Linked DNA regions of Homo sapiens. The protein of the gene in region 3 purifies or fractionates together with the protein of the main gene of each other region. This does not show direct contact. Each region holds a gene or a part of one and is shown on either strand. Other genes may lie near its edges. The genes, in order: RHPN2, STAT5B and TRMO.

The links.
Region 1: the proteins of TRMO (region 3) and RHPN2 purify together in Homo sapiens (affinity purification with mass spectrometry; 3 studies listed by BioGRID and IntAct, with this or other methods). This does not show direct contact.
Region 2: the proteins of TRMO (region 3) and STAT5B purify together in Homo sapiens (affinity purification with mass spectrometry; 2 studies listed by BioGRID and IntAct, with this or other methods). This does not show direct contact.

Annotation. Positions count from the first base shown.
Region 1 is NC_000019.10:33,004,311-33,014,630, reverse strand, and holds part of RHPN2 (rhophilin-2), read left to right. Parts: intron 1-1,906; coding exon 1,907-1,984; intron 1,985-2,827; coding exon 2,828-2,952; intron 2,953-6,450; coding exon 6,451-6,617; intron 6,618-10,320. UniProt on the Homo sapiens protein: Binds specifically to GTP-Rho. May function in a Rho pathway to limit stress fiber formation and/or increase the turnover of F-actin structures in the absence of high levels of RhoA activity.
Region 2 is NC_000017.11:42,209,012-42,219,331, forward strand, and holds part of STAT5B (signal transducer and activator of transcription 5B), read right to left. Parts: coding exon 10,301-10,320; intron 9,868-10,300; coding exon 9,712-9,867; intron 9,320-9,711; coding exon 9,140-9,319; intron 8,454-9,139; coding exon 8,366-8,453; intron 8,272-8,365; coding exon 8,149-8,271; intron 7,096-8,148; coding exon 7,003-7,095; intron 5,592-7,002; coding exon of another isoform or gene 5,571-5,591; exon of another isoform or gene 5,521-5,570; intron 3,180-5,520; coding exon 2,973-3,179; intron 1,487-2,972; coding exon 1,392-1,486; intron 1,291-1,391; coding exon 1,160-1,290; intron 1-1,159. UniProt on the Homo sapiens protein: Carries out a dual function: signal transduction and activation of transcription. Mediates cellular responses to the cytokine KITLG/SCF and other growth factors. Binds to the GAS element and activates PRL-induced transcription.
Region 3 is NC_000009.12:97,918,114-97,929,395, forward strand, and holds the start of TRMO (tRNA (adenine(37)-N6)-methyltransferase), read right to left. Parts: upstream 4,388-11,282; 5' UTR 4,381-4,387; coding exon 4,305-4,380; intron 4,069-4,304; exon of another isoform or gene 3,694-4,068; intron 1-3,693. Other genes in the region: HEMGN (hemogen), read right to left, coding at 9,271-9,365. UniProt on the Homo sapiens protein: S-adenosyl-L-methionine-dependent methyltransferase responsible for the addition of the methyl group in the formation of N6-methyl-N6-threonylcarbamoyladenosine at position 37 (m(6)t(6)A37) of the tRNA anticodon loop of tRNA(Ser)(GCU).

The DNA.
Region 1 (10,320 bases), on a different chromosome or scaffold from region 3:
AAGTTTAAAGAAAAGAGGCATAGTCAGCTGGGTGCAGTGGCTCATGCCTGTAATCCCAACACTTTGGGAAGCTGAGGTGGGAGGATCACCTGAGGCCAGGAGTCCGAGACCAGCCTAGGCAACATAGGAAGACTCTGTCTTTATGAAAAATAACAATATTAGCTGAGTGTGGTGGTGCACACCTATAGTCCCCTCTCCTGGAGAGGCTGAAGTGGGAGGATGACTTGAGCCCGGGAGTTCAAGGCTGCAGTGAGCTATGATTGCACCATTGCACTCCACCCTGGACGACAGAGCAAGACCCTCATCTCTTAAAAAAAGAAAAAGAAGGCACAGCAAAGTTGTGTATTTAGTACAAATCCATTTTTGTAAGACAAGTGTTTGTCTGTTTGTGTGTCTGTATGTTGAACACACAAAAACAGGAGGAGCTTTAATGTAAAAGTTGTGTAAAGAGGTTACTCACAGTCACTTGGGAAGACATAATTGAGCGATCTATGTGATCACCTTTCTTGCAGCTTGGGGGAGCCAGCACTTGTAGGGGCGGGGGTGGGGCGACAGGGCAAAACCCCATCTCTATTAAAAAACACAAAAATGAAATTAGCTTGTGGCACGTGCCTGTGGTCCCAGCTACTTGGGAGGCTGAAGTAGGAGGATTGCTTCAGCCTGGAGAAGTTGAGGCTGCAGTGAGCCGCGATCGCACCACTGCACTCCAGCCGAGGCAACAAAGTGAGACCCTGCCTCAAAGATAAAATAAAATAAAATAAAATAAAGTAAAATAAAATAAAATGCCTTTATAACATGGTTAAGGGTCTTCTTGGCAAAGGAAACCTGTATCTGGAGACTGTTATTGACAGTCCTACCCTCAGGATCTGTGCTGGGAAACTTGTCCGGGTCCTGAGGGAGGCCCAGAATTGCAAGTCTGAGCCCCTGAATAGCTGCAGTGTTTGCAGTATAGTTGAATGTATAGGCCATAGACTGGTCTCGAACTCCTGGGCTCAAGTGATTTACCTGCCTGGTCTTCACAAAGTGCTGGGATTACAGACGTGAGCCACGATGCGCAGACACAAAGACATTTTTAAGCAAAAAATTTACTTCAACTCTCACTTTTACTGAAGCAGCACAACATTTAAAAACATAGGCGTGTGTTGCAGTGGCTCACACCTGTAATCCCAGCACTTTGGGAGGCTGAGGCAGATGGATTGCTTGAGCCCAGGAGTTTGAGACCAGCCTGGGCAATGTGGTGAAACCCCATCTCTACTAAAAATACAAAAATTAGCTGCGCATGGTGGCACATGCCTGTAATCCCAGCTACTTGGGAGGCTGAGGCACGAGAATCACTTGAGCCTGGGAGGTGGAGGTTGCAGTGAGCCGAGATCGCAAGATTGCACTCTAGCCTGGGCAACAGGAGTGAAACTCTGTTTTTTGTTTTTTGTTTTTGTTTTTTTAAAAAAAAACTATGGCCGGGCACGGTGGCTGACATCTGTAATCCCAGCACTTTGGGAGGGCGAGGTGGGGGGATCACCTGAGGTCAGAAGTTTGAGACCAGCCTGACCAACATGGTGAAACTCTGTCTCTACCAAAAATACAACAATTAGCCAGACATTGTGGTGGGCGCCTGTAATCCCAGCTCCTTGAGAGGCTGAGGAAGGAGAATTGCGTGAACCCGGGAGGCAGAGGTTGCAGTGAGCCGAGATTGTGCCACTGCACTCCAGCCTGGGCTACAAAGAGAGACTCCGTATTAAAAAAAACTACATAAATTAAGAAAATAAATTCCCCCACTTTGAAAATCACTATAAGTTTTTCTTTATTCTGCCTTTTTAAAAATGGGTTCACAATTGACATATTACTATTATGCACACATATGGTTTTCAGCCACACTTTATAACATCTGACCTCATTTTTCTTTAAGGATTTTATCCTGGAACATTACAGTGAAGATGGCTATTTATATGAAGATGAAATTGCAGATCTTATGGATCTGAGACAAGTAAGTTTTTGTGTGCAGCAGAGAGGGGAGGGTGGCTTTTCCGAGTCTTCAGGGAACCCCATTATTGCACGCTTGTGGTCTTAACAGAATCGCGGGTGGATAGAGGTGATGGTTGGGGGGTGCTGGAATCATCCATTCCACTTGCTGCATAAGAAAACTGTAGAAGGAGGCCAGGCGCGGTGGTTCATGCCTGTGTAATCCCAGCACTTTGGGGTGTGGAGGTGGGCGGATCACCTGAGGTCAGGAGTTCCAGACCATCCTGGCCAACATGGTGAAACCCTGTCTCTACTAAAAATACAAAAATTAGCTGGGCGTGGTGGTGCATGCTGGTAATTCCAGCACTTTGGGAGGCTGAAGCGGGTGGAACACCTGAGGTCAGAAGTTTGAGACCAGACTGGCCAACATGGCAAAACCCTGTTTCTACTAAAAATACAAAAACAAGCCAGGCATGGTGCTACACGCCTGTAATCCCAGCTACTCGGGAGGCTGAGGCAGGAGAATCACTTGAACCTGGTAGGTGGAAGTTACAGTGAGCCAAGATCGCACCACTGCACTCCAGCTTGGGTGGGTGACAGCAAGACTCTGTCTCAAAAAAAAAAAAAAAAAAAGAAGGAAAACCATAGAAGGGGAGAGCCCTGCCTCAGGGCTGGGACTGGATTCCAGGATTTCTGACTTCCTCCCAGGTTCTTTCCACCCCTCCCAGAGTTTACGATGCCAGTAGCGAGGTCATCATACTGCAGAAATAGTTACAGGCACCTGCTGGTATGTGCAGGGCACCTTCTGGGAAGGGCCATCAGCTGTGTCCTCCTCTGCTCATGCCCTCTTGGGTTCTTTTCCTTGCAGGCTTGTCGGACGCCTAGCCGGGATGAGGCCGGGGTGGAACTGCTGATGACATACTTCATCCAGCTGGGCTTTGTCGAGAGTCGATTCTTCCCGCCCACACGGCAGATGGGACTCCTGTTCACCTGGTAGGTGCTTGAGGTCTGCGCTGGCGCTTCACGTGTTATGGCAGCCACAATTTTGGAGCCTCAGCATCACAGACGCCCCTCTGCGGGTGCCCCTGTGCACCTCAGCCCCCTTTCCTATCTTGCATTTATCTGGGGAAGTCTCAAAAGATGTCAATACATTGGTATTTATTTATGAAGGTGATCCGAGGGGAGATGGCTCCAACAGACTGTGGCCTCTTGCTTCTCAGAACAAGCGAGCCAAGGAGAAGAGACATTTTTCTTGCTCGTTGTATCACTGGGGAAGCACGGGGGCTCTGAAGTGGAATTAGCCAGAAGCGAGATTCTTATCTCAGATTGGACAGGGGCATGCATGTGTATGTGTGAGTGAGAGAGAGAGAGAAAATCAGGTCTTATCCAGTGAGGCAAAAGCACCAAACAGAAATAGATCAGGTTTCTTTTGAAATGGGGTCTCACTGTGTTGCCCAGGCTAGTCTTGAATTCCTAGGCTCAGGTGATATTTCTGCTTCAGCCTCCTGAATAGCTGGGACTATAGGCATGAGCTACTCACTCAGCTTAGATCAGATTTAAAAAAAGGAAGTAGAGCATTTGATTCTTCTCCACAATTGGTATTTTCAGACAAGATCAGGCACGTCAGGGTGGTATGGCCGTAGACCCAATTGGTATTTTCAAAGGTTAGTATAGTTTAAATACTTGGGAGGCCGGGTACAGTGGCTCACACCTGTAATGCCAACACTTTGGGAGGCCGAGGCAGGCAGATCACTTGAGCCCAGGAGTTTGAGACCAGCCTGGACAATGTGGCAAAACCCCATATCTACAAACAATACAAAAATTTGCTGGGTATGATGGTATGCACCTGTTAGTCCCAGCTACTTGTGAGGCTGAGGCAGGAGAATCACTTGAGCCCGGGAGGCGGAGGTTGCAGTGAACCGAGATCACACCACCGTACTCCAGCCTGGATGATAGGAGTGAAACCCTTTTTCAAACAAGAAAAAAAAAGGCTGGGCGTGGTGGTTCACACCTGTAATCCCAGCACTTTGGGAGGCCAAGGCAGGCAGATCACGAGGTCAGGAGTTCGAGACCAGCCTGTCCAATATGGTGAAACCCTGCTTCTAGTAAAAAGTACAAAAATTAGCAAGGCATAGTTGCGCGTGCCTTGTAGTCGCAGCTACTTGGGAGGCTGAGACAGGAGAATCGCCTGAACCCGGGAGGCAGAGGTTGCAATGAGCCAAGATCACACCACTGCACTCCAGCCTGGGTGACAGAGTGAGACTCTGTGTCAAAAAAAAAAAAAAACAACCTAAAAAAAAGTACTTTGGAGATGCTGCACCCCTTCTCTGAGTGTCGTTAGGAGTGTCAGTGAAAGGAGAACACATCCTAGAAGATCAGGGGCATATCAGAATTCAATGTTTCTACAGCTGATGGGTGGCTACTAATGCCTTCCTCATGGAAAGCAAAGGAAAGGGGGATGACTTTTCCTAACAATGCACCAGGCTGTCTGCATGGCCGAAAAGGCGAAAGGTGGTTTCTCCTTAGTCATGAATTAGGGAGAAGCTGTCTGCACACCCCCTGGTTCATGAGTAAACTTTAAAACAAGTCCTAGGGCCAGGTGCGGTGGCTCACGCCTGTAATCCTAGCATTTTGGGAGGCCGAGGTGGGTGGATCACCTGAGGTCAGGAGTTCAAGACCATCCTGACCAACACGGCGAAACCCTGTCTCTACTAAAAATACAAAAATTAGCTGGGCATGGTGGTGGGTGCCTGTAATCCCAGCTACTTGGGAGGTTGAGGCAGGAGAATTACTTGAATCCGGGAAGTGGAGGCTGCAGTGAGCTGAGATGGCGCCACTGCAGTCTAGCCTGGGCGAAAGAGCAAAACTCTGTCTCAAAAAATAAAAAATAAAAAAAATAAAAATAAAACAAGTCCTAGGCTGGGTGTGGTGGCTCATATCTGTAATCCCAGCAGGTTGGGAGGCCAAGGTGGGTGGATCGCTTGAGCCCAGGAGCTTGAGACCAGTCTAGGCAACACAGTGAGACCCTATCTCTACAAAACAATTAGAGAAAATTTGCCGGTCATGGGTGGTGCATGCCTGTAGTCCCACCTACTTGGGAGGCTCAGATGGGAGGATCTCTTAAGCCCAGGAGGTTGAGGCTGCAGTGAGTCATGATCATGCCACCGCACTCCAGCCTAGGCAACAGAGTGAGACTTTGTCTGAAAAAATAAAAAGTAAAACAAATTAAAACAAATCCTGAGTTTTTAGATTTCAGAAAGAATTATGAGGGGTTAGTAATTGCCATATTTCATTTAGGAGAAGCCATACCGCCTTGGCCTCCCAAAGTGCTGGGATTACTGGCATGAGCCACCGCTCCCAGCCCATTTTTTTTTTTTATAATTGAAGAACTTACCTGACACATCATTATCACCCAGAGTCCATAGTTTCCATTAGGGTTCATTCTTGCACTTGTGTATTCTGTGGCTTTTGGCCAACATAGAATGACAGTGATCCACCTTTGCAGTGTCATACAGAAGAGTTTCACTACTGGAAAAATCCTTTGTGCTCCCCCTCCCTCCCTCCCCCTAAGTCCTGGCAACCCCTGATCTTTCTTCTGTCTCCAGGGTTTTGGCTTTTCAGAATGTTGGAATCACACAGCGTATACAGTAGGTAGCAATGTTCAGGTTGGCTCTTTCACTTAGTAATGTTTCCTCTGCATCTTTTCATGGCTTGCTGGTTCATTTCTCCATTTTTAGTGCTGAGTAATATTCCATTGTCTGGATGTCCCATGGTGTGTTTATCCAGTTACCCCGTCAGATATTTTTGTGTGTGGCTGTGGCGGTCAGTGTGATTAGTCCTGTCATCTTGCTTGGAAACAAAAGCCTCAGTGCACATGCATTCTTGACTTTTACTGAAGAAATGAGTTTGTTGTTGTTGTTGTCGCCCAGGCTGGAGCACAGTGGTGCGATCTCAGCTCACTGCAACCTCCGCCTCTCGGGTTCAAGTGATTCTTCCGCCTCAGCCTCCTGAGTAGCTGAGATTACAGGCGCCCGCCACCATGCCTGGCTAATTTTTGTATTTTTGGTGGAGACTGGGTTTCACCATGTTGGCCACGCTGGTCTCAAACTCCTGACCTCAGGTGATCCACCTGCCTCGGCCTCCCAAAGTGCTGGCATTACAGGCGTGAGCCACCGCACCCAGCCAACCCAGGAGTTTGACAGCAGTTTGGGTAACATAGACCCCATCTCTACAAAAATTAAAAAAAAAAAAAAAGGCAGGTATGGTGGCATGCACCAGTAATGCCAGCTATTCTCATGAGGCTGAGGTGGGAGGATCAACTGAGCCCTAAAGTTGAAGGCTGCAGTAAGCTATGATCACACCACTGCACTCCAGCCTGGGCAACAGAGTGAGATATTGACTCTTAAAAAAAAAAAAAAAAAGAATTTTTTCCACTTGTAGCATTAACTAGCCAAGTAATCTGTATTCTCGGAATGCATTTCTTTCACATAGGTATGACTCTCTCACCGGGGTTCCGGTCAGCCAGCAGAACCTGCTGCTGGAGAAGGCCAGTGTCCTGTTCAACACTGGGGCCCTCTACACCCAGATTGGGACCCGGTGTGATCGGCAGACGCAGGCTGGGCTGGAGAGTGCCATAGATGCCTTTCAGAGAGCCGCAGGTATGTCTCCTCCAGGGCTGACCAGACGGAGCCTTGGCCCCACCCGGTGGCACCAGGGGACCCCCCACTGAAGAGAATCTACAGGTCATCCCTCGCAAGGGCCAGACCAGTCTCCAGCTCTGGTGTAACTTCCCATTAAGAAACTTGCTCCGGCCGGGCGCGGTGGCTCACGCCTGTAATCCCAGCACTTCGGGAGGCCAAAGCGGGTGGATCACAAGGTCAGGAGATCGAGGCCAGACTGCATCTCAAAAAAAAAAAAAAAAACTTGCTCGGTGGTTCAGACCTCAGTCTGGGATGGCTGATGTACATGGTGAATCCTGTGGCTGACGATCTTTTCCAGACAAGTGGCCCCTGGGATGGCAGTGCATAACTGTTTCTTTCAACACTGTCATGAAGAGCAGAATAACTTTTCCCAAATAGTGAAACTGTAGGCTTCTTTTTCTTGTATTAGGTGTACCTTATCAGTGCGTATTACTCTCCGTGCCTTTATTTATTTATTTATTTATTTATTTATTTATTTATTTATGAGATGGAGTTTTGCTCTTGTTGCACAGGCTGGAGCGCAGTGGCATGGTCTCGGCTCACTGCAACCTCCACCTCCTGGTTTCAAGCAATTCTCCTGCCTCAGCCTCCTGAGTAGCTGGGATTACAGGCACCCGCCACCACACCTGGCTAATTTTTGTATTTTTAGTAGAAATGGGGTTTCGCCATGCTGGCCAGGCTGGTCTCGAACTCCTGACCTCAGGTGTTCCGCCTGCCTCAGCCTCCCAGAATGCTGGGATTACAGGCATGAGCCACCGCACCCTGCCCCTCCATGCCTTTATATCACCTGCATTCTGCCAACTTCTCCAGCATGAGGTGGGTGTTCTCAACCCTTTGTCAAGTGATGCATTCAAAGGATGTCTCATAGCTCAGTTCCCTTCTTCTGGGAACTGTCTTTTGTTATTTTATTTTATTTATTTGTTTATTTTGAGATAGAGTCTTGCTCTTGTCACCCAGGCTGGAGTGCAGTGGCACAATCTCTGCTCACTACGACGTCTGCCTACTGGGTTCAAGTAATTCTTCTGCCTCAGCCTCCCAAGTAGCTGGGATTACAGGCGCCTGCCACCATGCCTGGCTAATTTTTGTATTTTTAGTAGAGATGAGGTTTTGCCATGTTGGCCAGGCTGGTCTCAAACTCCTGACCTCAGGTAATCTTAGTATGAGAATGAGGTGCGGTGTTGAGGAGAAAAGCAGCCTAGTGCTTACACCTATAGAGGACTGGGGTCAACAGACCCAGCGCTGTGGGTGAGCCTGGCTTGGCTCACCTGTGCCTGCGGGTTCTGCCTTGCTCCCCCATAGCAGGGCTGTGTCTGGGTCAGACTCCACGTGGGGATGGATGCAAGAGCAGGGCACAGTGTAGACCACAGTGTGTTCCCCACGCTAGCTCTATAGCGTGTTGCCTTCTGGGCTGATCATCGACATTCTGCTTTGGGGTGTGATCCCCTTCCACCCGTGTGGATCATTGTTTGATATCACTTTGCCCTGCAAGCTTGTGAAGAACCATAGCTTTGCCACTTTGACTCATCGTGAAATTTCTGATGTTATAATGATTGGTCCTACCAGCCTGGGCCACACAGGAGGACCCCATCTCTACAAAATATTTAAAAATTAGCCAGGCGTGGTGGTGTATGCCCGTAGTTCCAGCTACTCCAGTGGCTAAGACGGGAAGATCACTTAAGCCCAGGAGTTTGAGGCTGCAGTGAGCTATGATTGCACCACTGTACTCTAGCCTGGGTGACAGAGTAAGACTCCATCCCTAAAAAGAATTTTTTTTTTTTAAATTAATGAAATAGGCTGGGCATGGTGGCTCATGCCTGTAATCCCAGCACTTTAGGAGGCTGAGGTGGGTGGATTGCTGGAGCCCAGGAATTTGAGATCAGTCTGGGCAACAAGGCGAAACTCCATCTCTACAAAAAGTACAAAAGTTAGCTGGGCCTGGTGGTGCATGCCTGTAGTCTCAGCTACTTGGGAGGCTGAGACAGAAGGATCAGCCGAGGTTGTGGTAAGCCAAGATCGCGCCATTGCACTCCAGCTTGGGCGACAGAGCAAGACCCTGTCCCAAAAAATAATTAATTAATTAAAAAAATAAAAGATTGGTCTATCGGGATGAAGCGATATGCTAAGATTCCAAGTATGAGTTGATTTCTTTTGCTGTAAATCTTTTTTCTGGACTCATCTTTCTGAGGAATCTTAGGCAGGCACTCTGTGTCCTGTCTCTGAGATTATATCAATGGAGACAAACTATAGACGAAATGAAGCAAGTAGGAGAACAGTGGGGAGTGTGAGGGAACCCCCATGGAGCTCGCAGCTCAAAACAGCAGGTGCCATCCCTCCGCAGGGCAGGGCTTTTTTTTTTTTTTTTTTGCTCAGCAACAAAACCAGAGGAACCAGTTGGATGGGATTCATATGAGAGATTCTATTTCAGTTCCAGATTGATTGTCAGTTAGCGCTTTGGACAGTTAATTTTCTAAACTACAAAGAAGTCAGAGGAAGGCTGCAGCATGAAAATTTCCATTGGAGCAGACGGATTGAGATTTTTTTTTTTTTTTTTTTTTTTTTGAGACAGAATCTCACTCTGTCGCCCAGGCTGGAGTGCAGTGGCGAGATCTCGGCTCACTGCAGCCTCTGCTTCCCGGGTTCAAGTGATTCTCCTGCCTCAGCCTCCGGAGTAGCTGGGATTATAGGCGTGCACCACCACACCTGGCTAATTTTGTATTTTTGGTAGAGATGGGCTTTTGCCATGTTGGCCAGGCTGGTCTTGAACTCCTGACCTCAGGTGATCCGCCCACCTCGGCCTCCCAAAGTGCTGGGATTAGAGGCATGAGCCACCACGCCTGGCCAGAATAGATCTTTCTTGAGGTCCAGGGGAAAAGCCCTGGACTGCTGAATGACTCAGATCTTATGTGTGAGCCTGGTCCCCTGTGAGCCCCTTAGTCCTTCTGCCTGCCGTCTGCTTGCATCTCCATACCTGTCGTGATGGAATTTTGTCCCAGGTGACACAGGAGTTGTGGGGAGCAGGCTGGTTTCTTTACTCAATAGAGATGTGTTTTGGAAGGTAATCCAATTTTTAAAAATTGGGTTAAAAGGCTGGGTGGGGTGGCTCACGCCTGTTATCCCAGCACTTTCAGTGGCCGAGGCAGGCAGATCACCTGAGGTCAGGAGTTCGAGACCAGCCTGGCCAACATGGTGAAACCCCGTCTGTACTAAAAATACAAAAATTAGCTGGGTGTGGTGGTGGACACCTGTAATCCCTGCTACTTGGGAGGCTGAGGCAGGAGGATCGCTTGAACCTGGGAGGCAGAGGTTGCAGTGAACTGAAATCACACCACTGCACTCCAGCCTGGGTGTTTATTTATAAATAAATAAATAAATAGTGTTAAAATATACATATATAACTTAAAATGTACTATTTTAACCAGTTTTTTTATTATAGTAAAATAACACAGAACATAAAATTACCATTTTAATTATTATCTTAAATTTTAAAAATTTTAAAATTATCCTGCCAACCAGAAGCACATTTTAACCATTTTTAAGTGTGCAGTTCAATGGCATTAAGTGCATTTGTACATTCATAGTGTTGTGCAGCCATTACCACTAAACATCTCCAGAAGTTAAAAACTTTTTTTGTTGGTTAGGCAAGGTGGCTCACACCTGTAAT
Region 2 (10,320 bases), on a different chromosome or scaffold from region 3:
CGTGAGCCACCGCACCCAGCCTTTTTTTTTTTTTCTTTTAAGAGACAGGGTCTTACTCTGTTGCCCAGGCTGGAGTACAGTGATGTGATCATGACTCACTGTAACCTTGAACTCCCAGGGTCAAGTGATCATCCCACCTCACCCTCCAGAGTAGCTGGGACTACAGGCGCACACCATGAGCACCACCATGCCCACCTAATTAACTTATTTATTTATTTATTTACTTAGAGACAGGGTCTTACTATGTTGCCCAAGCTGGGCTTGAACTCCTGGCCTCAAGAGATCCTCCTGCCTGAGGCTCCCAAAGTGCTGGGATTACAGGCATGAGCCACCGCACCCAGCCAAAAGTTATTAAAAACTTTAATTCACAGAAAATGAACCAGCAAGCTACCCTTATTGTGAGGGTCAGAGGAGAGAACTAACTTTCCTGATGCCCTGGTGCAGTGGCTCAAGCCCGTAATCCCAATACTTTGGGAAGCCAAAGTGGGGGATTGTTTGAGCCCAGGAGTTCGAGACCAGCCTGGGCAACATACAAAAAATTTAAAAATTAGATGGGTGTGGTGGTGCACGTCTGTGGTCCCAGCTAATCGGGAGGCTAAGGGAGGAGGACTGCTTGAGGCCAGGAGGTCAAGGCTGCAGTGAGCCATGTTTGTGCCGCTGCACTCCAGCCCGGGCAAAAGAGTGAGACCCTGTTTCAAAAAAAGAAAAGAACTAACATCTTGGGTAGAAATGGTTGATGGCAATATCCATATGTTAATTAGGATAAAGGAATATTTTTACTACTGTAAGAACTCCAAATCATCAAATTCTTCACTGAAATAAGCTTTATGCAGAGTAGTACAATAAGGCAAACATTTTAAGAGGGAAGCAACTGAGATTCTGCACGGACTCTTGTATCATAGGTAGCCATGTCATGGTTAAATGTTCATGTGTAACCATGCTGCCATATACTTTCATGTATAACCAAATTAGCAATTGTGTTTCCCATAATAGTATTTTTCATAGGCTGCCTTATTATGAGTATGTCATGGCTATACATTTATGTTTCCCATAATTAGTACTGACCTCAACAAATAGTAAGTACCCACTAAATTATTTGTTAAAATAATTTTGTAACGAAAGCAGCTAACTTTGGACATAAGAAGGGAGGGGCACTCACGAGAATCAAACTTCCAAGCAATGGTGATGCCGCCAATTTCTGAGTCACTGAATCTCAGGAGGAAGGTCCCATCTGGCTTGTTAATGAGTAGGTCATGGGCCTGTTGCTTGTTTACAAACCCCAAAATGGCCCTGGATCACCAAGGACAAAGGACAGAAGCAGAGTGTGACTTACGATGCCAGAGAGAAGACCTTCAGACTCTGTCGGCGCCTTAAGAAATAATGATTCTCACCCATCATTCCAATGAGGCTTGAGATGTTTTTTTAACACTTCCATCACACCGTCAAACCATTGCCAGAAAGTGTAATTCCGTCCTGGTAAATTCTCCTGGTTGGAGATACAACAGTGAACATAAGAACACCAGAGTAACACTTGGAATATTATACACATATTTAATTGGAAAAATTAAATGGGAAACAAACATCTACCCTTGTCAGAGGCATACAAATATCCCCGCCTACCTGAGTTTTACCTAATGGCCCCATGGAGAGGAAAAGAGGGAAGAAGGGGAAAATACCAAACTGCAGTTACCAGCACCCAGTGGGCTCCTGCTACAGACACTTTCACCTGGGACTGGGCTGACCCGTCCCTTGCTAGTTTCGATGTGTGGTCTGTGACCAGAAGCATCAGTGTCACCTGGGAGCTTCTGAGAAATGCACGTTGTTAGGCTCCAAATTAAACATTTAAAACACCTTGGGGGTGGGGGGTGTAGGAAAAGAAACAAAAATTAAATTCAAATCAAGGTGATAGCCGGGCATGGTGGCTCACGTCTGTAATCCCAGCACTTTGGGAGGCTGAGGTAGGCAGATCACTTGAGGTCAGGAGTTTGAGACCATCCTGGCCAACATGGTGAAACCCCGTCTCTACTAAAAATACAAAAATTGGCTGGACATGGTGGCGGGTGCCTGTAATCCCGGCTACTCAGGAGGCTGAGACAGGAGAATCACTTGAATCTGGGAGACGGAGGTTGCAGTGAGCCCAGAATGTACCACTGCACTCCTTGTGACAGAGCGAGACACCATCTCAAAAATAAATAAATAAACAAAAATAAATAGGGTGGGCACAGTGGACTCACGCCTGTAATCCCAGCACTTTGGGAGGCCGAGGCGGGCAGATCACCTGAGGTCGGGAGTTCGAGACCAGCCTGACCAACATGGAGAAACCCCGTCTCCACTAAAAATACAAAATTGCGGGGCGTGGTGCCGCATGCCTGTAATCCCAGCTACTCGGGAGGCTGAGGCAGGAGAATCGCTTGAAACCAGGAGGCGGCGGTTGCGGTGAGCCAAGATCGTGCCATTGCAGTCCAGCCTGGGCAACAAGAGCGAAACTCTGTCTCAAAAAAAAAAAATGAATAAAAATAAAATCAAAGTGACGTCTGAATTAGCAGATGCTAGAGGAGGAGTTTCTTTCATCAGCATCCCTCTTTGTGGGTTGAGGGTCCCATAGGAGCCTGATCTGGCATTACACATGGGGAACATAAGAGAGTAAAGGGGAGAGAGGCCCAGAGTTCGCATCCCCTCAAAAGCTTTGCTTCTCATGAGCTATGTTAACATCTGCTTTGCTCTATTTCCTTTACAAAGGAAGAAAATGCATTAACTGTAGACAAAGGTCAACTTATTTAAAATATGCAAAGATGTAATTTTCTACACGTGACCTGGGTAACTCTCAAGTTGTCCATCTAGTCAGAAGCTTCTATTACTTTCGGTACATTTTATTAGAGACATGAAGAATAAGGGCCCAGGGCAGGGAGACTCCTGAGAGCATCTGGTTGGGAAGGACTGATCTAACAGCGGCTGGCAGCTGGGCTCCTCACCCTGTTGAACTGGGACCAGGACACAGACAGGCCACTGTAGTCCTCCAGGTGGCTGCTGCTGTTGTTGAACAGTTTCTGCGCCAGGAACACGAGGTTCTCCTTGGTCAGGCCCCGGTTGCTCTGCACTTCGGCCTTGAATTTCATGTTGAGCGCCTCACACAGCTGTGGCCACAGCACTTTGTCAGGCACGGCAAATGGCACCCTGCCCTGAGAGGGAGAGAGGCCAGAATCTGATGAGAAAACAGTTGCATGATTTATTCCCTCAAGCCACAAAAGAAAAACGCTGATGGCTGGGAGTGGTTACACACATTTGTCTTGCAGGGCCTGAGGATAAATTCAGACTCTGCTGGGGTACACGGTTCTGTGAAATTCAGAAGGTTCCGTTTCACCTTCTTTACACACAACTAGAAGGTAACCCATGCTATCCATGCTGTTTTGTAAATGAGCTGCTGAACTAACAGTCAAATCCTATGTTCTAACGGCCACAAACCAAAACATAACCAAGGTCTGGCTCTTAGATTGTAAACACCTTGGGAATTTAGAAATCTGAAAGACTGGTCCTCTAGGTACAAACAGAGAGAGTGTGCGTATGTGTGCACACGTGTCGGCATGTGTGTACACACGTGGAATCATTGCCCTCGACTCCTTCTGCCAAGAATTCTAGCTCAAAGTAAAACAACTTGGTATGGAAGAGTGGAAATTTTGAGTTGGATGGCTTTATTGAGAAATAGGTTAGAAGATTAACTTTTAATAAACTGCTTTTCAACCCGTTCAGCCATAGTACTCCATTTTATTTTGTTACAAACACTTTTTTCAATAGGTGATTTTCACATGATTTAAAATTCAAAAAGCACAGACGGCTACACAGTGAAGTCACTCCCTATCCCTGTCTCCCAGCAACCCAGTTCTTTTCTTTAAAGGCACCTAACACAGTTTCTTGTGTATCCCACCAAAGATATTCTATGCATGCCAGCAATGACATATACCTTTTCCTTTTCTTCACAAATGACAGCACAAAATCCACATGTTCTGCATCTTCCTCTTTTCACTTAATCCTCTATCTGGGAGACCTCCCATCAGCACATAAAGAAATTTCACCAGACCCCCATAGATGGGCATCAGTGTTACAGCCTCATCTTTAGCTATTACTAACAATGCTGCAATGTTCTTATGTTATTTGACCCACAGGACACATAGGCAAATATATATGGAGAATAAATTTCCACAATTATTTTTTTTTTTAGGTAAGGTCTCGCTCTGTCATCCAGGCTGGAGTACAGTGGCCCAATCTTGGCTCATTGCAACTTCTGCCTCCTTAGCTCAAGTAATTATCCTACCTCAGCCTCCCAAACAGCTGGGACTACAGGCGTGCACCACCATGCCTGGCTAATTTGTGTGTTTTTTGTAGAGACAGGGTTTTGCTATGTTGACAAGGCTGGCCTCAAATTCCTGGGCTCAAGAGATCCGCTTGCCTTGGCCTCCCAAAGTGCTGGGATTGCAGGCATAAACCACTGTGCCTGGCCACAAGTCTTTATTATTTATTTTTTATTTTTTATTTTTTTGAGACAGAGTCTCACTGTGTTGCCCAGGCTGGAGTGCAGTGGCACCATCTCAGGTCACTACAACCTCTGCCTCCCAGGTTCAAGCAATTCTCCTGCCTCAGCCTCCCGAGTAGCTGGGATCATAGGCACGCACCACCACGCCCAGCTAATTTTTGTATTTTTAGTAGAGATGAGAGTCTCACCATGTTGGCCAAGCTGGTCTCGAATTCCTGACCTCAAATGATCCACCCACCTCGGCCTCCCAAAGTGCTGGGATTACAGGTGTGAGCCACCGTGCCCAGCTGAAAGTCTTTTTTTTAACATAGCATAAGGTCGGCTGGGTGCAGTGGCTCATGCCTATAATCCCAGCACTTTGGGAGGCCGAGGTGGGTGGATCACTTGAGGTCAAGAATTCGAGACCAGCCTGGCCAACATGGTGAGACCTGGTCTCTACTAAAAATATAAAAAATTAATTGGGCGTGGTGGCATGCACCTGTAATCCCAGCTTCTCGGGAGGCTGAGGCAGGAGAATCGCTTGAATCCAGAAGGCAGAAGCTGCAGTGAGCCGAGATAATGCCACTGTACTCCAGCCTGGGTGACAGAGCAAGACTCTGTCTCAAAAAAATTAAAAAAAAAAAAATAGCATAAGATGTAAGTAGTCATTAACATAGCTGAGAATGTTAAAAATGCTTATTTATTTAGACAAGATACTTGAGTAATTACATGGTGCAGGAGATGCCAAAGGTACACAGAGAGTGAGATCTGTGGACAGGCAGGGAAGGAAACAAGAGATGTGGCAATCTTATCTAGGAGGCTTATCAGGACAAGAGGCAGACAGACAGTTTCAAAAAGGAGCTTCTGATTCAGAGTTTGTAAGTGAAGTATGGTAAATCTCTTAAAAATCTCACCTTTGCAGTAAAATACTTTTTCTCTAAAGAGGAGTGTTGGGAAACGTTAAGCCTCTCCACGTGAGCCAGAAGGTTCCATTTCACCTTCTTTACACACAACTGGAAGGTAACCCATGCTGTCCATGCTGTTTTGTAAATGAGCTGTTGAACTAACAGTCAAATCCTATATTCTAACAGCCACAAAACAAAACATAATCAAGGTTTGTTGGATATACTTAGAGAAGGACATGCTCTTATGTCCCAAATGATAACCCTTTTATCATGCTTTTATGGACTAATCTCTATTGGAAATATGTAACAAATGACCTTTGCCTACTAAAAAAATTTTTTTCTTTGAGACAGGGTGTCGCTTTGTCACCCAGGCTGGAGTACAGTGGCACAATCTTGGCTCACTGCAGCCTGGACCTCCTGGGCTCAGGCGATCCTCCCGCCTCAGCCCCCCCCAAGTAGCTGGGACTAGAGGCTGGTGTACCATGCCTGGCTAATTTTTTGGTATTTTTTGTAGAGACAGGATTTTGCTATGCTGCCTAGGCTAGTCTGGAGCTCAAGGGATCTGCCTGCCTTGGCCTCCTGGAGTGCTGGGATTATAGGCATGAGCCACCGCACCCAGCCTATGAGATCTTTAAAATGCTCATCGAGCAGCATGCTAGTGGGATTCAGATAGCGTTTGGGTGCATAAATCCACCAAATTATATCTTCCTTGAGGCAAAGTATCTCATTCTTCATGAGACCTAGAATGAATCACAGAAACTAAAATTTGGAAAAGACATTTAACAGCATCTTCATTTATTGAAAGGAAGAGGGTATGAAGCAACTTCTATGCTAAAGTAAGCCTCTGGAGAGATCTAACCTCTGGAGTGAACCTAGGAGTCCCAAATCCCATTCATAGTTTCACCCAAGGATTCAAAATAATATTTACTGAGTACTGACTGTGTGGCAAGCATTTTCTATGTTATCTAATTTAATCTTCCTAACAATGCTGTAGAGCAAGAGTATCCCTGTGCTGCAGACACTTGCTGGAAACTCAGGCTCAGAGAGGTAAAGTGAACTGCCCATGTGGTCATGGAGTGAGGAAATGGTGGAGTCTCAGTTCAAACCCTGGCCCGATGTCAAGCCCATGTTCTTTCCACTTTCCACATTCTTTCTATTCTGCCTCCCACTAAAGAAAACAGCGTCTTTTTTCCTATGCTTTTTTTTTATTATTGAGATGGAGTCTCACTCTGTCACCCAGGCTGGAGTGCAGTGGTGCGATCTCGGCTCACTGCAACCTCTGCCGCTCGGGTTCAAGTGATTGTCGTGCCTCAGCCTCCCAAGTAGCTGGGACTACAGGCATGTGCCACCACACCCAGCTAATTTTTCGGTATTTTTTAATAGAAACAGGATTTTGCTATGTTGGCCAGGCTGGTCTCGAACTCCTGACCTCAGGTGATCCAACCGCCTCGGCCTCCCAAAGTGCTGGGATTACAAGTGTGAGTCACTGCACCCGGCCTTTTCCTATGCTTTTTAAAAGGATAATACATAAATGAGATTCATGACACCGGCATTGATTTTGGGACCCACATGCCCGAGGAATACACTCACAGGCTCTGCAAAAGCATTGTCCCAGAGAACAGTGGCCGTCGCATTGTTGTCCTGGCTGCCATGAACGATCACCACCACTGGCAGGGACAGGGTCTAAAAAGACACAAGAGAAGGCTGAGCGCCCACGAGCCTCAAGTTCTTCTCCTTCTCTCTTTTTTTTTTTTCTTATTATAACAACACTTTTATTTTCCAAGTTTCAGTTAATGTTCCTCTCAGACACAGAATCTAAATGGCCCCAGGAATAATATGACTTTTCATACTGGCACAATCTTAGAAATTTTAAATATTTTACAAGCAATGTTGCTTAGATATTTCTGAAGGATAAAGTTTCTCAAAGTTACATGGAGAACAGGAGAGAGAAAAGACTATTGGAGATATTTCTGGGAAGAAAATACAAATAACAAATTTAAAACTTACCACAACCTTTACTCAAATTCATCCCAAGTAATGTTTCTCATATCCATTTTGTAGTCTACCTCTCCAGCTAGTTCAGTTCATTATTGTTTGTTCATGTTTTATTTTTTATTTTTTAATTTGTTGTTGTTGTTGAGACGGGGTCTCACAACCAGCTCCAGGCTGGTCTGGAACTCCTGAACTCAAGCAATCCTCCTGCCTTGGCCTCCCAAAGTGTTAGGATTACAGATGTGAGCCACTGCACTGGGCCTTGCTTGTTCATGTCTTTTTTTTTTTTTTTTGAGACAGGGTCTCACTCTTTCACCCAGGCTGGAGTGCAGTGGCACAATCTCGGTTCATTACAACCTCAGCCTCCCAGGTTCAAGTGATTCTCCTGAGTAGCTGGGATTATAGGCACGTGCCACCACGCCTGGCTAATTTTTGTACTTTTTAGTAGAGATGGGGTTTCACTGTGTTAGCCAGGCTGGTCTTGAACTCTTGACCTCAAGTGACCTGACTGCCTCAACCTACCAAAGTGCTGGGATTACAAGCATGAGCCACTGTGCTTGGCCTCTGTTCATGTCTTAAGAGAACCTAAGTGAAACAGTTCTCAGGGTGAGGTCAGTCCATTTTCAGTTTACCAACAGTCAAAAAGAAGAAGATGCTATGTGATAAAAAAAAAATATTTTGTAACATAAAGTACACCACACACACACACGCACACGCACACGCAGAGCTGAGGGAAGGCTTTACCTTGACTTGAAAAACCAGCTCATTTCCACCAACACTGAACTGGGATTCAAACAGGATTGTAAATTTTTCTTCTGTCACCGACTCTGCCCCACGACGGTCTGACCTCTTAATTCGTTTCAGGGACTACAAAGAAGAAACATAAGATGAAACGTAAGATATAAGTTGTTCCCCTCAAAGACCAGGGAAAAATTCATTCTTCCTCTTCTTCCACCCTCACCATATTCCTGAAGTGGGCACTAAGGGTGCCTGTGGCTTGGTGGTACTCCATGACGCAGCAGTTGTTCAAGATCTCGCCACTGTAATCACTGCAAATCAGAGAGAGACCAGCTCCAAACCCATGCCAGGGTCTCAGGACATGCGGAGTAAATAATATAATTTGGGGTAGCAGGAAATAGAGAAGTTTGCTAAAAATGTACGTCATTTAGAGGAAATGTTAGCTACATAACACATACATGTAATCTTCTCGGACGTATCTCTACAAAATGAAACAAGATCAAACTATCTTCACAGAAAACAGTTCCTAAGAGAACTTTTTTTTTTTTTTTTGTGACGGAGTTTTGCTCTTGTTGCCCAGGCTGGAGTGCAGTGGCGTGATCTCAGCTCACTGCAATCTCAGCTCACTGCAATCTCTGCCTCCCAGGTTCAAGGGATTCTCCTGCCTCAGGCTCTCTAGTGGCTGGGATTACAGGTGCCTGCCACCACGCCCGGCTAATTTTTTGTATTTTTAGTAGAGACAGGGTTTCACCATGTTGGCCAGGCTGGTCTTGAACTCCTGACCTCAGGTGATCTGCCCACCTCGGCCTCTTAAAGTGCTTGGATTACAGGTGTGAGCCACCACACCAGGCCCAAGAACTTCCTTATATTCCTTTGCTGATGCCCAGAAGAGGCCAGAAGGGCAAACAGGGATCTGACACAGGAGGCAGAATTCTTTTTTTCCTGTTGCCAGGACATGAGACAAGTAGCAGGGAATGAGAGGAAGCTGCACAATTACTTGCGGGTGTTCTCGTTCTTGAGCAGAGACTTGGCCTGCTGCTCACTGATGATGGTGGCCTTCACCTGGGGGGGGTTCATGTGCACGTTCAGCTTCCCGCCCACCAGCAGGCGCACAGTGGCTGCAAACTTGGTCTGGGTCTTCAGGACCTGAGGAGGCTGCTTCTCAATGATGAACGTGCTGCAGGGGACACAGGGACAGATGCATGATGAGGGGCTGGTGCAGGGGAAAGGGCTCTCAGTCCCTCTGTGGTGGGGGTGGGGCTGCCTCCCGAGGGGCTCAGGAGGTGAAGAGCTCGGGCACAGCCTCTGTTCCTGGGGAAGCCGTGAGAGTCCAGGGAGAGGATGGAGAGGGGAGTGAGATAACACAGAAGCTGGCATGGGCTGCAGCCCAAGGGCATCTCTTGCAGTGTCCACAGGAGAAACTGGGCAAGGGCCACAGCAACTGGAGATGGAGTTGGGAGGGATGAGAGGCAGGAAGTGGATCTGCTGGTCTGGAAGGCACCTGCGGCTCCCCCCACGCAGGCAGGAGCTGCCCCAAGCTCCTGGGCATGGCAAACAGGCAGCAGTCACCTGGTCACCAGGGCTGAGATAATGTCCGTGATGGTGGCGTTGACCTCGGCCAGCATCTCCTCCACTGGGCCGGGGATGGGCAGCTGCTGGCAGAGGTGCTCAGCCCTGCGGATCTGCTGCCGGTTCTGCCAGATGATCTCGGCCAACTTCTCACACCTGCACGAGAGCCCCAAGGCCAACAGGAGGACAATGGCTCCTCCGCACAGACGCCAGGCCCCAAGACACAGCTCCCGTTCCCCCAGGAAGGCTCTGTGCTTTCGCCACACTTCCCACCCATGGGAAGAGCAGAGCTCCCTGCCTCCCAGAATTAGAGACGTACACAGGAGGGGCGACCCTGACTAGGCCCAAACAGCCCAAGCATCACCCCACACACCCGAACCCTGTCCCATCTCCAGGACAGCAGCCCCCTTCCTGGGGGAGGTGCACAGGATGGGGGCCAAAGTCTGATTGAGGAACCAGGCTCCCTGGAGAAACAAGAGCTGTCCCAGGATGGAGGGGGCCTGCTGCAGGAGCCAGCACAGGACGCAGAAGCAGCCGGGATCCCCACCAGCCCCTCCTGCCCTGCCCGCTGGCCGCCCCACACCATTACCAGGACTGTAGCACGTCCAG
Region 3 (11,282 bases):
CTCACGCCTGTAATCCCAACACTTTGGGAGGCTGAGGTGGGCAGATCACCTGAGGTCAGGAGTTCGAGACCAGCCTGGCCAACATGGTGAAACCCCATCTCTACTAGAAGTACAAAAAAAAAAAATAATTAGCCAGGCATGGTGGTGCATGCCTGGAGTCCCAGCTACTCAGGAAACTGAGTCAGGAGAAGCACTTGACCCTGGGAGGCAGAGGTTGCAGTGAGCCAAGATCACGCCACTGCACTCCAACCTAGGTGAGCGAGACTCCATCTCAAAAAAAAAAAAAAATCACAATTTTTTTAAGTAATAACATATTTCAAAAGAAAAAAAATGGCCAGACACTATCAATATAAAGTCCAAGGTTTCCATGGCTACCACTTTGAATTTATTGATAACTTTTTTATTATTCTCACATTTCATGACAGCGTTATCAATTTCTGAGAGATGATATAAAGACACTTCAGACTTTATTTCCTGCTTCCTTAAATCTACCCTACCAGCATAAGCAGTAAGACTATAGGTCTGGGGCTGTCCCTCACAGTATCTTTCATTACTCTTCACTTCTAGAAGCTACTTTATTTGATATATATAAATATCATATGCAACATACATGTAAGTTATACGGCATAATATGATGAAACCCCGTGTATACACCACCCATCCCAAAAACTAGAGCGTTACTAACGACTTGTTCTTTTTAGGTTGTTTTTCTCTTACCTCACACCCTTCTTTTCCCTCTGAGATAAACAGAAGCCTGAATTTGATCTTTATCATTCACTTCCTTTTAGAGAATGATTTTGTTACATGTACATGCATGCCTAAACAGTATTTCATTGATTTTTGTCTTTAAGATCTATAAAAACTGGCACCAAACTGTAAGTTGTCTTCTCAGACTTGCTTTTTCTCTCTCAATATTATGAGGCTAAGATCCATACATACTCTGTATGTTTTTGACAACTTTAATTTTTGTTCAAGTATGTTTACAGGCATTGTTTTTAGTTTTTTGTTTTTTCTTTTTAATCCTCATCCATGCTTCTATGGAACAGATATAGTAGACATCTTAAAAATGAAGAAACTGAGGCCAAACGACCTGGCATATCTTCTTTATGTCTGGAAGATAAATGGCCAAAAAAGACCCCTAGCCCAGCCACAAAATCCCTGTGTCTTCTTTTCATTTGTTCAAGAAACATTTTCTGGCTGATACTCTGGGCACACTGCCCATGAGTTAGCTCTGCTCCACAAAGAGAAGAAAAAAAAAAGAAAGAAAGAAAAGAAAAGAAAAGAGAAAAGAAAAAGGAAAGAAAAGAAAGGAAAGGGAGGAAAGGGAAAGAAAGGAAAGAAAAGAAAAGAAAGAGAGAAACACTATTTTCCAAGTGTCTACAATTGCCAGACATTGTGTTAAGTTTGGAGAAAAGATACAAACCAAGAACTCTTACTACAGTGGAATTTAATAGTTGAGGAGACTATCACACCATGCTTCAATATCATGGGAAATGTCCTGTCAGCAGTAAAGTAATCAAAGACTTCTGCCCTTGACTCTTTGATTTGGGGCCTAGGAATTTATATTATAGCTGATTTATCACTTCACTAAATCAGTCTATGCCTGTTTTTCACAGATTACACATATGATATGATAAATATAAGTGGCTGCCAATTAGATTTACTTCTATCCTCTAATTAGATTTACTTCTATCCTCTTTGTGCATCTCCTTAAGAACATAAGCAAGACAACACTGGATTAGCAATGAACTGGAAGTATACTCAAGAGCTACTTTGAAAGAGTTCTTCTAACTCTGCTACTCTAAAATGTTTGGGACCACTCTCAAAATACCAAATATCCATATCCTAGTACGTCTGAACTCTTCTGGGACATATTTATACATTCTCTGTGCCCTCCTGGGGATAATGCTATGAAATATAAATGCTATTTGAAGCAGAGACCTGACACCGTTTGCCAAGGGGAATTCTGGTCTTCTTCTTCTTGCCTATCTCAAAACGACAACAACAAAAACCCAAAAGAACAGTAAACACCTACCATTTTGGTAAGCACTGTGCTAAGGACTTGGGGTACAAATATGAACCAGTTCTCGTCCTCAAGGGTTTCCAGTACATTGACAGAGAAAGACAAGTAAATCAACAATTCTAGCTAGGTGCCTTTGCAGGGATAGAGATAAATAAGCACAGGTATGACAAAAACCAGCACAAGAACCTCATGGAAATGGGGAGAAGTGGTTCCTCAAAGGAGCATGAGAGAATTAGGACTGGTTTCAGAATGGAGAAAGGATAAAAACAACACAGGGCCACTACACTAGCTGTGTGACCATGGGAAAAACTAGCTTCTCTCTCTGAATCCGTTTTCTCATCTATAAAACAAGGGATACTACCTACTTTGGAAAGCTGTAAAAGTACTAATAAAATAGGAAAGCATCCAATAAAATAGAAGGTGCCCAGCAAGGAGTGCTTTTTAAAGTCCCTGCTCAGGCTTTTTCCTCATTTAAACATTACAACTGTATTAACTGTGTAATAAGTAAAAAGCCAGCAAGCAATCAATGTGGGGTTTTTTGTGTACAGGATTGTCTACACGTCTTGCTCTGAAAATAAGTTCAGGTCCTTTTCATTTCCACCTGTACTATTAAATTACCCTTCTTAGGCTTTCTGTCCCCACTGCAAGTTCTTCCCCTTCTCAAAATACTCTAGACGAATCCTCAACACTCCTAGAGTTTCTTGTGTTATGCTAACTCTTTAACTTTAAACTTTTCATATTCTCCACTGTTAACAGACTTTGTATTTCTTAGCCTGGTACTCAAGTTTCTTCACAATCAGAATCCAAAGGTTCCCACCTCCCTGTTCCATCCAACACTTTAGACTTCTAGCTCCCCAAACCTATACTGTGTAGACTTCTGAGCCCTGGCTTCTGCGTTTTCCTTCCTGTCAAAATATGAGACCTGTAATCGGCAGTGTGCAACAATTTTTTTTAAATAAGCACATTTGGCCAGGTAATAGCACTTCCAAGAAATTTAACAAAGTTCAAACTTTAGAATGTACACAAACATTTCGGCTTCAAGAGCTTTCTTTTAGAACAATGCAAACTGGCAATAACTTAAATGCTCAGTAACAGGAAGCTGGTTAAATTAGAGCACATATCTAAAACAAAGCGTTAGGCTGGTTGCAGTGGCTCATGCCTGTAATCCCAAAACTTTGGGAGGCTAAGGCAGGTGGATTGCTTAAGCCCAGGAGTTTGAGACCAGCCTGGGCAACACGGTGAGAGCTTGCCTCTACAAAAATTAATAATAACAAAACAAAGTGTTAATTTTTTTTTTTTTTTTTTGAGACGGAGTCTCGCTCTGTCGCCCAGGCCGGAGTGCAGTGGCGCGATCTCGGCTCACTGCAAGCCCGCCTCCCGGGTTCATGCCATTCTCCTGCCTCAGCCTCCCGAGTAGCTGGGACTACAGGAGCCCACCACCACGCCCGGCTGATTTTTTTGTATTTTTTAGTAGAGACGAGGTTTCACCGTGTTAGCCAGGATGGTCTCGATCTCCTGACCTCGTGATCCGCCCACCTCGGCCTCCCAAAGTGCTGGGATTACAGGCATGAGCCGCTGCGCCCGGCCCAAAGTGTTATAATTAACATTAACTGCCCTGTTAAGATTTTTTTTTAAATTATTTTAACGTTACTAAACAGGTCGTATAGTACCTCACTTTCCAAGTGTGTATGCAAAGAAACAAGCGTGGAAGGTAGACACCAAGATATTGACAATGGCTTTCTCTGGCAGGTTATTTTAATTTTCTTCCATTTGCTTTCCAGTTTCTAAAGCTAATATATTCCTCTATGAAAACGTGTGAGTAAAGAGAAACAAATTCATGCCTTGTCTTTCTAGGCCCAATTTAAAACTATTTTCTCCCCCAGAAACTTTCCCCCTTCTCTGTCCTCATTCCTACAGCGCAGGATGCCTCTCTATGGCATTTATTAATTCCTAACCCGCCTAACACCATCTCCCATACGCTATGGCAAGGAAACCCCTAAGAGAAAAGCCCCTACGCTGCACGTAGCTGCTCCAGCTACTGAGCCAAGACTACGCAGACAGTACAAGTCTTATAACAAAGCGGAACAAGCCAGATGACGTCATCCCGCTCGCCAAAGCACATCACGTGGTCTCCGCAGCACGTGACCCGTGCCTTCGCCGTAGGTAAAAGAATGACGCACGTCAGTTCCAGATCGTGCGTTTTACACCCCTCTCGGCAACGAAGTCCGCTGCCTGGGCCTAAACCTCTCCAGAGTGTGGCACCGCCGGTGTTGGAAGTTACCTGTCTCCAGAGCCGGCTTAACGCAGCCGCACGGGGTCGCTGTAGGCCGAGGCCCCGACTCCTCCAAGCCGCGCATGGCTACTGGTTGCTGAGGTGCCCACCCGACGCATTCAACCTTCCGCTTCCGCTCTCCATGCCTGACGCATGCGCAGTGGCCTCGCCGGCGAGGTCCCGCGAACCCAGGAGAATGTGCGCGCGCAGGGTGGCGTTGAGGGAAGCTTTGAGTTCTCCATGGGGCTTCGAACCCTATCCCGGGCGTGTGCCCCTCCGGGACCCCAATCTCGTTTATCTTACACACAGCTGCTACAGTTGCCCGCCCTCCTAGGGTAGAATGCGACTCCGGCTTCCCGCGCTTTTTGAGAGGGAACACACCTCCATGAAGAACTCGCAACTATGTCTCTCTCGAAACATTATTAAGTAACCTATACGTCCAGTATGACCCTAATTTTTAAGGGATGTGTATATGTAATTAACACAGAGCGGAAGGACTGGACGTTAAGAAATGTTAAGAATTCTCAGGCACCTGTGGTCCCAGCTACCCAGGAGATTGAGGCGGGAGGATCGCTTGAGCCCAGGAGTTTGAGGCTGCAGTGAACCGTGATCGCGCCACTGCACTCCAGCCTGGGTGACAGAGCGAGACCTCGTATCAAAAAAAAAAAAAAAAAAAAAAAAAAAAAAAAAAAAAAAATTATCCCTGGGTGGTGGGAAATTTTTCCATAATATAAGTTATGCTTTGTCAGAAACAACCCCAAATAAGTCTTATTTCAAGTGTGGTGGATGTTATAAAGGAGCCCTACTATGTGCTAGGGGTTAAGGAGTGGGAACTGTTTCTTGTGCTCCACACCTTACCGGAACTGAAGTGAGAATGGAATTATAAGAGTCAACATGCCATGTGCATTGTGGGGATTATTGTCGTTTCTGGACAGCTCTGAGAAGCTAAGAGCTAACAAGAATCATTTAATCCCATGCAATGACCAGTTGTCCTTGCAATGATAGCCTATCTTTTACCCACTTGTAATGCTGTCTCTCACCTTTAGTAAGTTTCTCTGTATATAATTCTCTTTCTGGGAGAAATTTTAAAATCTTTTATCTTTTTATCTGTTAACATCTGCAGTATAAAATATTCAAAAGCATATGAGTCACAGATTGAAAAGTCTAACAACCATGAAAAGATGTTTCCATGTCTGTCCATTTGTCATTGATTTCTGGTAGAAAATAACCAGCAGGAGGAGCCAAATAATTAAAGATTGTGGTTTAAAAAATAAGATAAAACTGATCAAATTCATATAGTGTCTTTTGGCAGGTCATTTTTACAGGACAACTTGGAAAAGGCTGCCATTTTTTTTAGGAGGGACAGCTCTGTGCAGCTGGAGAAACAAGTTTGAAAATCATTGTTTTATATATATATAGCGCGCGCGCGTGTGTGTGTATGTGTGTGTTTATAAAACTGGGCCAGAATTACTGCGCTTGCCACTAGATGGTGGTGTTGCTAAAAATGATAGTCCCGCTTTATCTGTGGAAAGACTAGATTTAAAGAGATATTTGCCCTCCTGGAGGGCATGGTAGACGTTGTTAATCACACAAAAAAATATGTAATTACCAAGTGTGACAAGTACTGAAATGCAAAGCTGATTTGAATATACTAGGGAAATAGATTGCTACTTCTTTTATAGGTAAAATTTCTCTTGACTGAAAACGGGAACTTAAATATGCAGCACATTTTTTAGTCTATGATTTGAAGTTCTTATTATCTTGTCTGGAATTATATGTGATTATTTGCAGTTTATAAGACTTAACCTCTCCTCCAGATGTAAGACCTAGAAATCTGCCTTAAAGAAATGACCTAAATAATTATGTAGTCTTCAGCTTGTACTACTTTGAGAAACACTTCTCAGTAGAGTGATTCTTAACCTCTCATTTGGGTGAAGGACCCCTTTGAGAATCAACTAAAGCTTTGAACCGTCCCACACATCATTTTGGCTATAATATCATATGGTTCATGGGTTTCTAACCTAACATGAGAGGAGGGCAGCACAAAGTCAAGCTAGAAGGATTCTTGCAAAACTTTAATTCTGTCACCTAAAGGTTCTAAGCCAAGAAGAACGCCAGAAGAATTTTAGATGCACAGTGATGTTTAAACAAGAATGGTGAGAAAGCAGAAGTGGTGTGTGAATGCAGGGAGTGATGTAAGAGGGCAAGCAGAAAGGGTCCCGAGAGGTGGAGAGAGAAATTCTGCTTCCTCTAATGTACTGCATTCCTCTTTCCCTCTCCTTCCCCATCTCATCTTTGTGCTCCTGTGCACTGTACGTATGCAAATCTCTTAAGGTCCATCTTAATGCAACGCTGTTAGAACTTGAGACTTCAGTTTACTCTTTTTTTTCCTCTAATTTTGGCCCACTCTGGCAGGTGAAATTGAGACAGAAGCACATTCCAAAGAAGAAAAAAAAGCACTGAGGAAGTCAGATGTGACTTTGGGTGAGTACCTTCCCTCTATGTTATTCCCTCATCTTTAAGTGAGAGTGATAATCACCGCCTGGCCTATTTCACATACTTTTGTACAGATCAAATAAAATAGTTTATGTGAAAGTATAAATGTTGAAGTGTCATTGAGAGGTAAGAAACTATTATATGGTTGTGGCCGGGCGCGGTGGCTCACTCCTGTAATCCCAGCACTTTGGGAGGCCGAGGAGGATCACGAGGTCAGGAGATTGAGACCATCCTGGCTAACATGGTGAAACCCCGTCTACTAAAAATACAAAAAAAAAAAAAAAATAGCCAAGCGTGGTGGCGGGCGCCTGTAGTCCCAGCTAGTCGGGAGGCTGAGGCAGGAGAATGTCGTGAACCCAGGAGGCGGAGCTTGCAGTGAGCCGAGATGGTGCCACTGCACTCCAGCCTGGGCGACAGAGTGAGACTCCGTCTCAAAAAAAAAAAAAAAAAAAAGAGACGAAACTATTATGTGGTTGTGCTGCCCTGCCCTCAGTATGTTGTGTAATAAATATAATAGGGGTATGAATAATTGTGCAATGAATACATCCTGATGGTAAAAAATTTAATGTACACACAAAAGGGGGTAGGCAGATAGGAGGGAAACAATATTGTAACATCCCACTGTACTATTGGTTCTCAACCCTACCTCCACTTTAGGATTGTCAGGAGAGCTTTTAAAATAAAAACATCCTAAATGCAATTCTATATCCTGGATTGGACCCTGAAGCAGACAAAGCACATTAGTGGAAAAATTCATGAAAACGGAATAATGTCTGTAGTTAATGGTAGTGTAACTATCCTGATTTCTTAGTTTTGACAAATGGCCCATGGTTATGTAAGACGTTAACATTGGTGTAAACTGGGCGAAAGGTATATAGTAACTTTTGTACTATCATGACAACTTTTCTGTAATTCTAAAATTATTCCTCCAAAAACTATTATTTGAAGCATAAAACAATTAAAAAATAAATATACCTATGCCTGTACATCAGCTAGATGGGGGAATCTGAATCCCTGGGGGAGAAGTCTGGACATATATGTATTTTTGAAACCTTCCCAGGTGAGTCTAATGTACCAGAAGGGTTGAAAGAACCACTGCTCTCTCATGTTCATTATACCATGAATGCCTGAGGGACTGTGACCCTGTCTTGTTCTTTGATATAGCTAGTACCTAGCACAGTGTCTATATGGAAAGCTTGTGCAAGTGTGTTCTTGCTGAATGAAACTTTATTTGCAAAAATATCCTTAGTCCTCTGTAATAACAGAAGGAAAAGTGAAAACAAAAAATACCAGGGTAGATTTTCAGACATCTTCCCATCCAGAACAGCTTCTATTCCTGCCCCGGTCTCTTGTCGTTTTCAGTTAATCTTTACCATTATCACCATATTTACCATATTCCTAAAATAGTGAAATTGCCATTCCATTGTTCAAAAATCTGACTTCATTCCCCATTTTTAACAAGTGATATATTTCTTGGTTAGGTAAGCAAAATATTCTATGCTCTAGTAATATGAGCTTTTCAGCATGCAAGCCTACTACTATTTCATATGGACTCTACATTAACCATAGTTTGCCTGCAGTTCTCTTGAACATGTTTTGAACTCACCCTTCTCTTTGTCACATACAGTAATGCTGCTATCCTCATCTATGCAAATACTTTCCGTCTTTCAAGGCTTCATGCCTGTGTAATTTTTTCAGGTCACTCCAGCAAAAAGTGAGCATTCTCTGTTTGTATCTACCATTCAAATGGCACCAGCCCTTACTATTTTCTTTTGTGATTATTTGTTTTCTGTTTTATTTCCCCATGAAACCAAATTAACCCCACCGTGGGGTGTTAGATAGGTCTTCTAACCTCCGCAATTCTTAACATGATGGTATCCACACAGTTAAGCATGTAATAATGATTTAATGTACATTGTGCACAAATACAATATTTAAAAAATAAAAATAGAAAATCAAAATTCAAATACAAAAGTAAACTACATTCATCACTCCAAAATATCTTTTAAGGAGAATTGTTAAAACTGACCAAAAGAGTCAACTAAAGCCTGAATAAAATTTTGATGCTACTGTTACATTAATAATTGAACAGCATTTACAAGAAAACTATATACTCCACAAAATGTATGTGTTCAGTCTTAGTCACTTATCTGCTCTTAAGACGTAAATAAATGTTCTTAGGGGGGAAAACCAATTATCCAGTCCTCCCCGCTTCCTTATTTGTCTGTTCCCACCACTATCCTCTCCCCGACCTATACATACATACACACACACACACACACACACACACACACATTCTAGCATGATATTGTCTATGTGGTAGAGCCTTAAAAAATGTTATTTCTTTCAGATATGGTCTACAAATAGAAAAAATAATATTAATGAGCATTGTCAAAAGTTTTACAATATTTTGAGAAAATCACGCATAAACTATTAAGCTGTATGTTCCATTGGACCACAACTTTATGGTTGAGCATTGTTAAAACAAAACATAACTATAGACATCATTTTCTGGATGACTCTCATTCAGAATTGCTGGTATTCCTGGCTCTTCTTTGGGTTTTTCTTTCATTTCTGTAAAATCAAATAAAATAAAAAATAGATTCAATAAATTGTATTGGGACAATTGACTCTCCATTTGGAGGAAGAAAAACTGCTTTACAACATACACAACAACAAACCGTAGATGGGGTAAATTTTTAAATACCATAAAGTTATAGAAATAATAGTGTTTTTAGTAATCTTAGGATGCTAAGCAGAACACAGAGACCAGAAACCATAAAGGAAAAGACTAGCAAGTTCGAATACCTAAAAAGTAAAATTATATATGGTGAAAACCACTATAAACAAAGTTAAACCAAATCAAAGACAACTGGAAAAATATTTGCAACATATACATAGTAAAAACTATTATTTAAAGAGGTTTTTTAATCGGAAAAAAGAAATAAAAAATGTTGAATGGGATAAGGATTCAAACAGGCAATTCTTAAAAAATTATATTTATAATAATCCTGAAAAGATGTCTAGTAACATTAATTATAAAAGGGGGTGATTAAGACCATTAGGTGTGTTTTATTTTTTAACCTATCACTTCTCAGCCTTTTGGCTAAGATCAAGTGTATTTTTTTTTTTTTTTTTTTGAGCCGGAGTCTCGCTCTGTCGCCCAGGCTGGAGTGCAGTGGCGCGATCTCTGCTCACTGCAAGCTCCGCCTCCCGGGTTCACGCCATTCTCCTGCTTCAGCCTCCCGAGTAGCTGGGACTACAGGCGCCCGCCACCGCGCCCGGCTAATTTTTTGTAATTTTAGTAGAGACGGGGTTTCATCGTGTTAGCCAGAATGGTCTCGATCTCCTGACCTCGTGATCCGCCCACCTCGGCCTCCCAACGTGCTGGGATTACAGGCGTGAGCCACCGCGCCCGGCCGATCAAGTGTATTTTTTAACCTAGCAGACAGACAAGGATTTTTAAAATGTCATAATGTACAGTGCTGACAAGGGTGTGGGGAAAAGGCACCTGTCTCGTGTGAATTGCTACCACATTTCTGGAGGCTAGTCTGACTGACTGTATATTCAAACTTTAAATTTGGGTACCGTTTGGCCCAACAATTTGATTTCTAGGGGTTGATTCAAAGGAAATAATCAGACAAACTTCAGCCTCCAGTGCCTCCATTTCCTTATATTTAGAATGGGAGTATTATTTATCCAGTAGAGCTTTTAACATTGAATAAAATAAACCACATAAAATATTTAATATGGTGTCTGGCACATAGAAAAGTACCAGATAAATGTTAACTAAATAAATGTTATTCCCAATGATGTTCATTGAACATTGTTGTAATAGTAAAACTTGGCAGTAACCTAAGTGTTCATCCTTATAGAGACTGGTTGAATATACATATAGCACAGTACTATGCAGTTGTTACAAAAGACATCATAAAGATGGCTGCAATACATATTGTAAATGAAAACAAAAACAAGTTACAGGATAGGATGGGTACTGTCTCATTTGTTGAAACAAAACAACCTTAACATTGGGAACTGAAGATAGAAGATGGTATTATAGGGGACTTTTACTTTACTTGATATTCACTTACATATTGCTTTATTATAATGAACACTTACTACTTTTATAATCAGGAAAAATAGATATTCCCATTTATTTGGTCAAACAAAGCCAAAAATAAAATAAGCGTTAATTAATTGACCATATCGACCTTGCTGGGTTTAGAATGAAGCAGTTAGGAATCAGGACGCTGTGTTGGTTAGAGCTGCTTCTCCAGCAGGGTACTCCTGTCAGTGCACGTACTGCTTCACATGCCTGCTTTTGCTGCAATGTATTTCTTTAAAGTAGTTCTTCAAAACTGGTATTACTTGGAAACCAACTAGCACCATGTTTTTGTTGCACTCATCTTTTAGGATAAAGAGCAAGTAAACTACTAAAGGGATTTCTTTAGAAATCAGTTTCCTGGGGATAACTATGGTCTGATAGACTCA